Linked DNA regions of Homo sapiens. The protein of the gene in region 1 purifies or fractionates together with the protein of each later gene. This does not show direct contact. Each region holds a gene or a part of one and is shown in the gene's direction. Other genes may lie near its edges. The genes, in order: MRM1, UBR1 and ZER1.

What was found.
Region 2: the proteins of MRM1 (region 1) and UBR1 purify together in Homo sapiens (affinity purification with mass spectrometry; 4 studies listed by BioGRID and IntAct, with this or other methods). This does not show direct contact.
Region 3: the proteins of MRM1 (region 1) and ZER1 purify together in Homo sapiens (affinity purification with mass spectrometry; 4 studies listed by BioGRID and IntAct, with this or other methods). This does not show direct contact.

What each region holds. Positions count from the first base shown.
Region 1 is NC_000017.11:36,599,386-36,603,131, forward strand, and holds the start of MRM1 (rRNA methyltransferase 1, mitochondrial precursor), read left to right. Parts: upstream 1-2,197; 5' UTR 2,198-2,425; coding exon 2,426-2,967; intron 2,968-3,167; coding exon 3,168-3,261; intron 3,262-3,543; coding exon of another isoform or gene 3,544-3,558; exon of another isoform or gene 3,559-3,746. Other genes in the region: DHRS11 (dehydrogenase/reductase SDR family member 11 precursor), read left to right, coding at 286-378, 587-652, 777-818. UniProt on the Homo sapiens protein: S-adenosyl-L-methionine-dependent 2'-O-ribose methyltransferase that catalyzes the formation of 2'-O-methylguanosine at position 1145 (Gm1145) in the 16S mitochondrial large subunit ribosomal RNA (mtLSU rRNA), a universally conserved modification in the peptidyl transferase domain of the mtLSU rRNA.
Region 2 is NC_000015.10:43,099,358-43,103,103, reverse strand, and holds part of UBR1 (E3 ubiquitin-protein ligase UBR1), read left to right. Parts: intron 1-3,746. UniProt on the Homo sapiens protein: E3 ubiquitin-protein ligase which is a component of the N-end rule pathway. Recognizes and binds proteins bearing specific N-terminal residues that are destabilizing according to the N-end rule, leading to their ubiquitination and subsequent degradation.
Region 3 is NC_000009.12:128,765,201-128,768,946, reverse strand, and holds part of ZER1 (protein zer-1 homolog), read left to right. Parts: intron 1-3,746. UniProt on the Homo sapiens protein: Serves as substrate adapter subunit in the E3 ubiquitin ligase complex ZYG11B-CUL2-Elongin BC. Acts to target substrates bearing N-terminal degrons for proteasomal degradation with the first four residues of substrates being the key recognition elements.

The sequences.
Region 1 (3,746 bases):
CTGAACCTCCCTAAGCCTCGGCCTTCTCACTTGTGAAAAGGAGATGATGAGCTTTTCAGGGACACTTTTTTGTAAAACGTTTACCTGACATATAGGAAAGGCTCTGTAGATGGTAGGTATCATTGTGGTCACTGCCAGTGGCAGCTTCGGAGGGAGGAGGCCGCTGCCGGATATCAGGCAGCCATCACTGTGAAGCTGGGGTTCTGTGGCCTCCATCCTCTCCCCTCGACCTCCCCAAGACCTGGCAAAGCTCAGCCCCTGAGAAGGCCCTCTCTGTTGGCCCAGTGCATCTCTCCAGGTGTGGTGGAGACACAATTCGCCTTCAAACTCCACGACAAGGACCCTGAGAAGGCAGCTGCCACCTATGAGCAAATGAAGGTGGGGCCTCCCTCTGAGCCTGGTGAAGCCACTGACTCCCTAAATGAAGGCAGAGGGAAGCTCGGCCTTCAGACTCCACTCTTCCAGCCTTTGTGGCTCCTCCTGGAGGGTTGGGGTGGATGTGTGGATGCCACAGAGAAGCTCAGTGGTGGGAGGGAATTTGAGTCCATTCTGTCCTTGTCTCAACCCATTCCCCTGGTGCTCTCAGTGTCTCAAACCCGAGGATGTGGCCGAGGCTGTTATCTACGTCCTCAGCACCCCCGCACACATCCAGGTGAGTCTGGCCCTGACTGTCTACTCACTGGAGGAACCCAACCAGCCCCAGAGGAGGGGAGCAGGGAGCCCTGCAGGGCCAGGGGAGAGTGTCACAGCTGCCTCATGCCTTGTACCTTCCACAGATTGGAGACATCCAGATGAGGCCCACGGAGCAGGTGACCTAGTGACTGTGGGAGCTCCTCCTTCCCTCCCCACCCTTCATGGCTTGCCTCCTGCCTCTGGATTTTAGGTGTTGATTTCTGGATCACGGGATACCACTTCCTGTCCACACCCCGACCAGGGGCTAGAAAATTTGTTTGAGATTTTTATATCATCTTGTCAAATTGCTTCAGTTGTAAATGTGAAAAATGGGCTGGGGAAAGGAGGTGGTGTCCCTAATTGTTTTACTTGTTAACTTGTTCTTGTGCCCCTGGGCACTTGGCCTTTGTCTGCTCTCAGTGTCTTCCCTTTGACATGGGAAAGGAGTTGTGGCCAAAATCCCCATCTTCTTGCACCTCAACGTCTGTGGCTCAGGGCTGGGGTGGCAGAGGGAGGCCTTCACCTTATATCTGTGTTGTTATCCAGGGCTCCAGACTTCCTCCTCTGCCTGCCCCACTGCACCCTCTCCCCCTTATCTATCTCCTTCTCGGCTCCCCAGCCCAGTCTTGGCTTCTTGTCCCCTCCTGGGGTCATCCCTCCACTCTGACTCTGACTATGGCAGCAGAACACCAGGGCCTGGCCCAGTGGATTTCATGGTGATCATTAAAAAAGAAAAATCGCAACCAATCTGCCTTGGCTTCAGGAGTGTCTTTCCATTCTTTCCCCTTCTCTGTGATCAGGGGTGCTTGTGTCTCAGAATTTCTTCCAGGTAGGTCCCAGGTGGGTGGATTGGGGGCCTCACTCATGGGAGTATGGATTACCTTAGGTAGCAGGAATGGGTTTGTTTGGGCCTTGAAAACATGTAGGAGTTTGACAAAGCGAAGACAGGTGTGCAAGGCTGAGAGGTCTGGAAGAGCATGCAGTGCTGTGCGAACAGCTCAGAACTTAAGCACAGGAGCAAGGAGCCAGATGGGGCTGAAGAGGCAGCTCCTTCCTGCCTTCCTGGATCGCTGGGGGGCTGAGTGCTGCGCAAGAGTCTCGCCATTACCTGTGGGACGGGGGCGTTAGTGAGCTTGTCAGCAGGAACACGACAGGCTCAGAGTCACTTAGGAAGAGAATCAGCGGCCCGGGATAGGAAGTGACTGTTGGGGTCCTGCTGGCTGGTGATGGGCTAGTGAGAAGTTCTGGGAAAAATCACCAGCGCCGGGATGTGGGGAGGGAGGCAACAAGACTGAATTGGTTGACCAGGAAGGCCAACCCATCTCCTTAAAGGGCCCTTCACTGGTGCGTGGGTGAATGCGGTCCCCGGCCTCCTGGGACCTCGAGGAACACAGGACGCAGCCGGTAGTACGGCCAGCTCAGCTCGCCGCTCCTCTAGCCTTGAGGGAGGCGCTGTGGGGGACAGCCTGGCAGCCACGCATGCGCAAAACACCGTCAGGAAGGGGCCGGGGAGGGGCGGGCTCCCGAACCCGGAAGCGAGGGACCCACGTGGGAGCCTGGGAGCGGGTGGTCGTAGCTCGGTAGTCCAGTTGTGGGTAATCGGGGCTGTTTGTTCCTGTCCGAGAGAGCTCGGCGGAGACGGCTGTCGAGTACCCTTCACCTCGGTGTTGGGAGCCTGGGAGCGAACTGCGGCGCGGGTTACCGCTCCCGGGGACGCAGCAAGGGGCATCGAGTCCCTGGCGGGAGCTGCGCCATGGCATTGCTCTCGACCGTCCGGGGCGCGACCTGGGGTCGCCTCGTCACCCGTCATTTCTCCCATGCAGCGCGGCATGGGGAGCGGCCTGGTGGGGAGGAGCTAAGCCGCTTGCTGCTGGATGACCTGGTGCCGACCTCTCGGCTGGAGCTTCTGTTTGGCATGACCCCGTGTCTCCTGGCTCTGCAGGCCGCCCGCCGCTCTGTGGCCCGGCTCCTGCTCCAGGCGGGTAAAGCTGGGCTGCAGGGGAAGCGGGCCGAGCTGCTCCGGATGGCCGAGGCGCGGGACATTCCAGTTCTGCGGCCCAGACGGCAGAAACTGGACACAATGTGCCGCTACCAGGTCCACCAGGGTGTCTGCATGGAGGTGAGCCCGCTGCGGCCCCGGCCTTGGAGAGAGGCCGGGGAGGCGAGCCCAGGCGACGACCCCCAGCAGTTGTGGCTCGTCCTCGATGGGATCCAGGATCCCCGGAATTTTGGGGCTGTGCTGCGTTCCGCACACTTCCTCGGAGTGGATAAGGTCATCACCAGCCGGAGAAACAGGCACGGACGTCCCTCATTCTCTATGTGCCCCAACTTGGAGACGCAGCCGAGTTCCTAAGCACCTTGGCCCTTGGGTGATCCCTTAGCCAGACTTACCTGTCCCAGAACTCTCATCCCCCTAGCCCTTGGGAGCCCTGGGAGGGTAGGGAGCCGGGCTTGAGATGGCCCAGCCTAATGCGGGGAACGGGGAAACCTTGCAGCTGCCCGCTCACTCCAGTAGTCAGCAAGTCCAGCGCGGGGGCTATGGAGGTGATGGACGTGTTCTCCACTGATGACCTCACCGGATTTTTACAGGTAATGAGGGGCAAGAGGGGAAGGAACAGATGTGAGCCCAGCTCAGCCTCTTCAAGGGGACGAAGCTAGCCCCTGGCGAGGGAGAGAAAGGGGCATGTTGGCACCGCTTCCTTTGGCCTTCTAAATCCCTCTGGGGATGGAAGGGTCCTGGAGTTTTTAAAACGGCAAATGGAGCATTAGCTGAATTCTTCCTAGCGTTATACCCTTTCCTGCACCCCTTCCCCAGGTATGCACCACTTTGCCTCTTCTGTAAGTCAGCCTCAGTGTCTATTTGCCTACTAGGTCGGGCTTCAGTAAATGCATTTTGTTCAGCTGTGGGGAGCTGCGTACAGGAGACCTGAGTTCCTCGAATAGGGCACAGCTTGAAAGGATGTTTGAACAAGAAGATCTTTATGCCATTAGTATCTAGCAAGAGACAAACCTTGGAAACCCCTCTCCCATCCGTTTGTCTTCAGCTGTGCTTCCCTTGCTGGACACAAGGAGGC
Region 2 (3,746 bases), on another chromosome or scaffold:
TTCCACCTCCCAGGTTCAAGCAATTCTTGTGCCTCAGCCTCCCAAGTAGCTGGAATTACAGGTGTGTTCCACCACACCTGGCTGATTTTTGTATTTTTAGTAGAGACAGGGTTTTGCCATATGGCCAGGCTGGTCTCGAACTCCTGACCTCAAGTGATCCATCTGCCTTGGCCTCCCAAAGTGGTGGGATTACAGGCGTGAGCCACTACGCCCAGCCCGGATAAGATCTTTGAGGAGGAAAATGTGTGCATATATATACACACACACAGAGGAAAAGAGAGTGAGACAGAGATGATGAGAAAGAGAGAACAGGAATGATTGAAACGGGTGGAAAATGGAAGAATGAGGTAAGAACGTGGAAACAATAGGCAAGCACGTAGGAGGTGAGAGTAGTGTGATGGCATGGGGTATTATTTTGAGAGGGTGGTTTATTGGGTCCATGATAATGAGGACTGAGAAAAATTGGGAATCAAGAGACTTGTGAGGTAGTCTGCCAGAACTTCTGCCTTCTGTCTTCCTCGACTAGATTTTCTTCCTTAAGTCAATTTCAGAAGATACCTCTTGGCATGATACTCAGCTCTTTTCTATTGCCTGTTTATAACCTCTACCTAGGGGATTTCATCTAGTTCTGTGACTTTAAATACCATTTGTATGTATTCAGTTCCCAAATTTATATCTCTGTGTCATCTCACTTCTGAACTCCAGAATCATAAATCCAACTGCCTACTTGACATCTTCACTTGGATGTCTGGTGTTTCAAACAGTGGGAGCAATTAAGAAGTTGCTGCTGTAACCCAAGCCATAGTTGATGGTAGCTTGCACTGGAAAGGTTATCCTTGGAGATAGAGTGAAGAGGATGAATGTGAGAAAGATTTTAGAAGGATGGAAGAAGCAAAAAGACTTGCTGATAGATTAGGCATGAGGCAAAAGGTAAGGAATAGATGATATCTGCATCCTCAGTTTTTGGTTTAAGCATTCATGGCAGCGGTTGTGTTGTTTCCAGCGGTATGATCTCGGCTCATTGCAACCTCTTTGTCCCAAGTTCAAGTGATTCTCTTGCCTCAGCCTCCCGAGTAGCTGGAATTACAGGCATGCACCACCATGCCTGGCTTTTTTTTTTTTTTTTTTTTTTTTTGTGAGCCAAGGTCTCTCTCTGTCGCCAAGGCTGGAGTGCGTGGCGAGATCTCGGCTCACTGAAACCTCTACCTCCCGGGTTCAAGCGATTCTCCTGCCTCAACCTTCCAAGTAGCTGGGATTACAGGTGCCTGCCACCACGCCTGGTTAATTTTTGTATTTTTAGTAAAGAGAGGGGTTTCACCATGTTGGCCAGGTTGGTCTTGAACTCCTGACCTCAGGCAAGCCGCCCACCTCAGCCTCCCAAATTGCTGGGATTATAGGCATGAGCCACCGTGCCCAGCCAGTTTTTTTGTATTTTTAGTAGAGGTGGGGTTTCACCATATTGGCCAGCCTGGTCTCGAACTCCCGACCTCAAGTGATCCACCCACCTCGGCCTCCCCAGTTGCTGGGATTACAGATGTGAGCCATCGCACCTGGCCTTGGTTGTGTCATATATTGAGAGGAAAGACAAGATTTTAGGAGAGGAAAGGAGAAAGGCAGATCAAGAGTTTTGTTGTCCCTGTCTCAGTAGACAGCACCTCCATCATAGCTCTTGAAGACAAATAATTCTGTCTCCACCCATGTAGTCCAAGTCACTCTCTGTTGTCTTGGCTACTGCAGTGACTTCCTAACTGGTCTGTTTGCTTCCACTGTTGCCCTCTTCCTGTCCATTCTGCACAGAACAACCAGAGTAATCTTTTAAAGATTAAATGAGATCATGTCAGTCTCCTACCTAAATCCTCAGTGGCTTTCTCTTATACTTATAAACTCATTACAAGCCTTCAAGACTTTGCCTGGTCCAGCCCCTGCATCTCCACCTCATTTCCTGTTACATTCTCCTCACTCATCCTGGCCTGTTAGTACAAGCCCAAGCTGTATTTTGCTTTAGGGTCTGTGCTGTTGCTTGCTGTTTGCTTTTCCTAGAGTGTTCTTCCTCTGCTTTTTCTTAATACACACTCTGTCTAAAAGATGGGTTCCTCTTATTCTCTGTCAAAGCAACCTGTTTATTTCTCCCATTTCAATTATTACAATCTGTAATTACTGTATTGTCTTTATTTACTTAGCAAAATGTCTGTTTCTTCCTCCAGAGGGAGAGGTAAGTTCCATGAAGGGAAGGATCATGTGTGACTTGTTCATTGATGCATCTTTTTTTTTGAGACGGAGTCTCGCTCTGTCGCCAGGCTGGAGTGCGTGGTGCGATCTCGGCTCACTGCAACCTCCGCCTCCCGGATTCAAGCGATTCTCCTGCCTCAGCCTCCTGAGTAGCTGGGACTACAGGGGCATGCCACCATGCCCAGCTAATTTTTGTGTTTTTAGTAGAGACGGGGTTTCACCATGTTGGCCAGGATGGTCTCGATCTCTTGACCTCATGATCCATCTGCCTCAGCCTCCCAAACTGCTGGGATTACAGGTATGAGCCACCATGCCTGGCCACATTGATGTATCTTGGTATGTGATTGATACAGAAGACACTTAAATATTTTTAAATGAATGAATAACTGAGGATCAACATTAATGATTTATTGTAGTAAGATTAGTAGTGATTGGTGGATGGAGGTTGTAGATAGAAAAAAGGGAATGAGCCGGCATGTTAGGGTAGTGGCTAACCTTCGAGTCCAGGCTGAACAGGGAGGTAATAAAAGCCAAAACAGGAAATCTGGAGGGAATTGGTGGGATTGAGGTGTTAAAGGGCATGAGGTTGACATAAGTGGGAGGACTGAACTTTGTGGTCAGAAAGGGGCATTTTAGAATTTGAGTACATGGGGGCACATCAAGTTTTTGTGATGGTAGAGCCAGGTTAAAGGCACCTCTTGGCCTGGTGCAGTGGCTCATGCCTGTAATCCCAGCACTTTGGGAGGCCGAGGTGGGTTTATTATGAGGTCAGGAGATCGAGACCGTCCTGGCTAACATGGTGAAACCCCTTCTCAACTAAAAATACAAAAAATTAGCCGGGCATGATGGCGGGCGCCTGTAGTCCCAGCTACTCAGGAGGCTGAGGCAGGAGAATGGCGTGAACCTGGGAGGCGGAGCTTGCAGTGAGCTGAGATCACACCACTGCACTCCAGTCTGGGCGACAGAGTGAGACTCCGTCTAAAAAAAAAAAAAAGAGGCACCTCTTGTGTGTTCCTATAGCACCCTTTCTATACTCCTGTTTTATGGTTTTATGTAGCGTGTCTCAGACTGTACTCTACGTTACCTGTTTACTATGTGTCTTTCCTTCTAGACAGTGAAGTTCTTGAAGGCCTGAACTGTTGCTTGTTCACAGCTGTATCTAGTTTCTAGCACATTGCTTCAAAGTTTTTATTGAATGTATGAATGAATGAATGAATGAGAAGACACTGAGGTAGAGAGGAAGTGGGGGTAATAGAAGCTGAGAATGTTAAGAGATATTAACATTATTGAGATATAATTTACATACAATAAAATGTACCCATTTAAGGCGTTTCTTGGATAAATTTTAACAAATGTATATACTTGTGTGACTACCACCAAATCAGGTTATAGAATATTTCTGTTATTTCCCAAAGTTGTCTCCTGCTGAAATGGGAGGATTTTTTAAAAGTTTAATATTGTTATGGTTACGCAATAATCATTATGGAAATCAAAGAAAAATGTACCCATAATCTCAT
Region 3 (3,746 bases), on another chromosome or scaffold:
AAATGAGCCCAGCAAATTTCCATTCTACCACGTAAAATAGGCAAAATGAGGGTGTTGAAATGAATGTGACTTGGAGACAGGTGGGGAGGGGCAGTGTATGCTGGGCCTAGATATGTGGTTGGAGTGTGCGTGGCTGATCTACGGGTAGAGGCTGGTGATCCGGAAGTGCCCGGCAGAGGCTGAGACTTTCCAGCCTGCTTTATAGGAAGCAGAACCACAGTTGATCTCCCTCCTTATACCCCAAGCCCGGACTATATCCTCAGGCCTGGGACACAGGCTGAGCAGGGCAACTGGGCCAGAGAATTTGAAAATGAAAGGTCAGAGCACTTAGGAGCTGAGAGCCAGCATGTTGGGGTAGGCTGTTGTGGGTAGAACCCCAGGCTGGTGACCTGCGGACCTGGTTCAAATCCCGGCTCTGCTGTTGGCTTGCTGTGTGAGTTAGGCAGGTTCCATCTCCTCTCTGGGCCTCAGTTTTCCTATTTGTAGATTAAGAATAATGGCCTTCCCTTGCCTCCGACTAACTCTAAAGGCTGTTGGGAGGATGAAATGAGACACAGCTTGTGAAAGAATTAGGTGTGTTCTGAAGCTCTCTACAAAGGTATTATCATTAGTACCACTAGGATTATGCAGACACGTTTTGGGGGCCCACTAGCTGGAAGACTGCTCTTGGCACTCTGGTTTTTTTGCTTGGCTTCAGTACCTCATCTGTTCTGGAGTCCTGAGAGGTGAGTGCAGAGACCCCTGTCTGGTTATCTATTTGTGGACCACTGTCTTATATCTGGCGCAATCGCTGAAACTGATTTTCCAGCTTCAGAGATGCAGAAGGGTCTCTTGAAGCATTATTCTCAGGAACATCACTCTTCATAATTATTGGTTACCACCTTCCTGCCATCCTTTCATGGCATCTCCTCAGCAACCCTGTTCACAACACGCGCAACACAGCGTGTGCCACTCGCAACATGCTGACAGGTAAGGACCTTGATAAATATTGAGGCTGGAAAACATTGGCTGGGGATCTTGTGGAGCCGAGGCCCTGTCACTGGCATTGAGCCACTCACATACTCTGTAATGGAGACCCCAGAAATCACATAGGGTCCCTGCCCTCAGGAAGCTTTCAATGCTGTGGCCAAAAAATGACATGCCACGGAGTGGTTACCAGCAGTACTGGATCATGTGAGCTCAGTGCCTGAGTTGTAAGGAAGCGGCGGAGGCTCGTGGAACAGAAGGGAAAGCTGAGGTTGGAGAAATGGTCCCTCCCCATAGCATAATGGCAAGGGGCTCGAACTTTAGGGTCACACACTTACCGGAGGAACAACTCATTGCTCATCTTTCAACCATTGTTTCCTTATCTGGGAAACAAAATGATAATGTATTATCATATTGATAAAATGTTATCTGTGGCAGCTGGGTGCGGTGGCTCACACCTGTAATCCAGCACTTTGGGAGGCTGAGGTGGGCGTATTGCTTGAGCCCAGGAGTTTGAGACAAGCCTGGGCAACATGGTGAGCCCTCATCGCTACAAAAAATAAAAAAATTAGCCAGGTCTGTTGGTATACGTCTGTAGTCACAGCTACTCCAGAGGCTGAGGTGGGAGATTGCTTGAACGTGAGAGGTGGAGGTTGCAGCGAGCTGAGATCGTACCACTGCACTCCAGCCTGGGTGACAGAGTGAGACCCTGTCTCTTAAAAGAAAAATAAATAAATAGGCCGACCGCAGTGGCTCACACCTGTAATCCCAGCACTTTGGGAGGCCGAGGCAGGTGGATCACCTGAGGTCAGGAGTTCGAGACCAGCCTGGCCAACATGGCAAAACCCTGTCTCTACTAAAAATACAAAAATTAGCCTGGCATGGTGGCGGGCACCTGTAATCCCAGCTACTTGGTTGGCTGAGGCAGGAGAATTGCCTGAACCCAGGAGGCAGAGGCTGCAGTGAGCCGAGATTGTGCCATTGCACTCCAGCTTGGGCAACAAGAGCAAAATTCCATCTCAAAAAAAAAAAGAAAGAAAAATAAATAAATAAATAAATAAGTTATCTGTGACTTTGATGCGAACTGCTTGGAAAGCTGGACACACTGGGTCTTTTTTTTTTTTTTTTTTTTTTTGAGACGGAATCTTGCTCTGTCACCCAGGCAGGAGTGCAGTGGTGCAATCTCGGCTCACTGCAACCTCTGCCTCCTAGGTTCAAGCGATTCTCCTGCTTCAGCCTCCTAAGTAGCTGGGATTACAGGCATCCGCCACCATGCCTGGCTAATTTTTGTATTTTTAATAGAGATGGAGTTTCACCATGTTGGCCAGGCTGGGCTCGAACTCCTGACCTCAGGTGATCCACCTGCCTTGGCCTCCCAAAGTGCTGGGATTACAGGCGTAGGCCACTGTGCCCAGCCTGACACACTGCGTCTTGAACTAATGAACTACCTGTGTACATATCTGTCTGTTCAGATCCATAGTCTCTGGCAAATTGCATAGCCATAGCCCCTTCCTTCCAGCTGCCTTTTCTGTAAGTTGTAGATGGTAACTCCTGCCTTGTTGGGTGTTGAGAGAATTCAATTAATTAACACATATAAAATACTTAACAGAGTTCTTTTTTTTTTTTTTTTTTTGAGATGGAATCTTGCTCTGTTGCCAGGCTGGAGTACAGTGGTGCAATCTTGGCTCACTGGAACCTCCACCTCCCGGGTTCAAGCAATTCTCCTGTCTCAGCCTCCTGAGTAGCTGGGACTATAGGCGCCCGCCACCACGCCCTGCTAATTTTTGTATTTTTAGTAGAGACAGGGTTTCACCATGTTGGCCAGGATGGTCTCAATCTCTTCACCTCGTGATCCGCCCGCCTTGGCCTCCCAAAGTGCTGGGATTAGAGGCGTGAGCCTCCACGCCCAGCCAGAATTCTTGGTATATACTTGGTATTCAGTATGGGTAGGATCATTAATACATTTGGTTACAAGAATAGAACCCAACCAGTCTGATTACTAGCCGAATGCAGCCTCCTCAAGGCCTCTCTGTCTCCAGCATCATGAGCAGCCACCTAGCTGTGAGGCACACTCCCCAATTATTGTGTGTCTGCATCTTTCTGACATAACCCAACTCATAGATTTAATCTCTGCAGACTTTTCAGAGCCAGGTGGCGTCTGGTTTTCACCTGTTTCCCGACCACCTGGAGATCCCCACACTTGCTGTGACTCCCCTCACACCCCCAGTCTCTGGCCCTTGATCTGCTGCCTCCTGGAAAGCGTCTAGCCTCTGTAAATAGGGCATTTGTTTGGGTTTTCCCCCCAGCTCCTAGGTTAATATTTCACAGGGTGAGTACTGCTCCAAGGCTCAGAGCTTCTGGCTCCCCCAACCTCTCTGTCCTCTGGGTATCAGGACACTGGTGGGATCCCATGCTCCCACCTCCAGACTTCAGTTTCTCTTTCCCTCCCATTGTTTGGATGGATGGACTGAAGACCAAATATTTGGTGAGAAGCGGGGGTCTGCTTTAGGTTTGCATCCCACTCTCATCAGTTTTGTGATCTCAGGCAAGCTTCTGCTTAGTTGTGTATGCGTCAGTATCTTCATCAGAAAATGGGGTAATAATCTCTATCTTGCAGTACTAGAGTAAGGGAATTCCAGCCACAGCAAACCTTTGTTCTATTAAACACCAGGCATAAATTGGGCACCGAAGTCAGACACCAAGGATACAGGTGCGTGCGCGCTTGCGCACGTGTGTGTGTGTGTGTGTGTGTGTGTGTGTGTGTGTGTACATGTGCATGG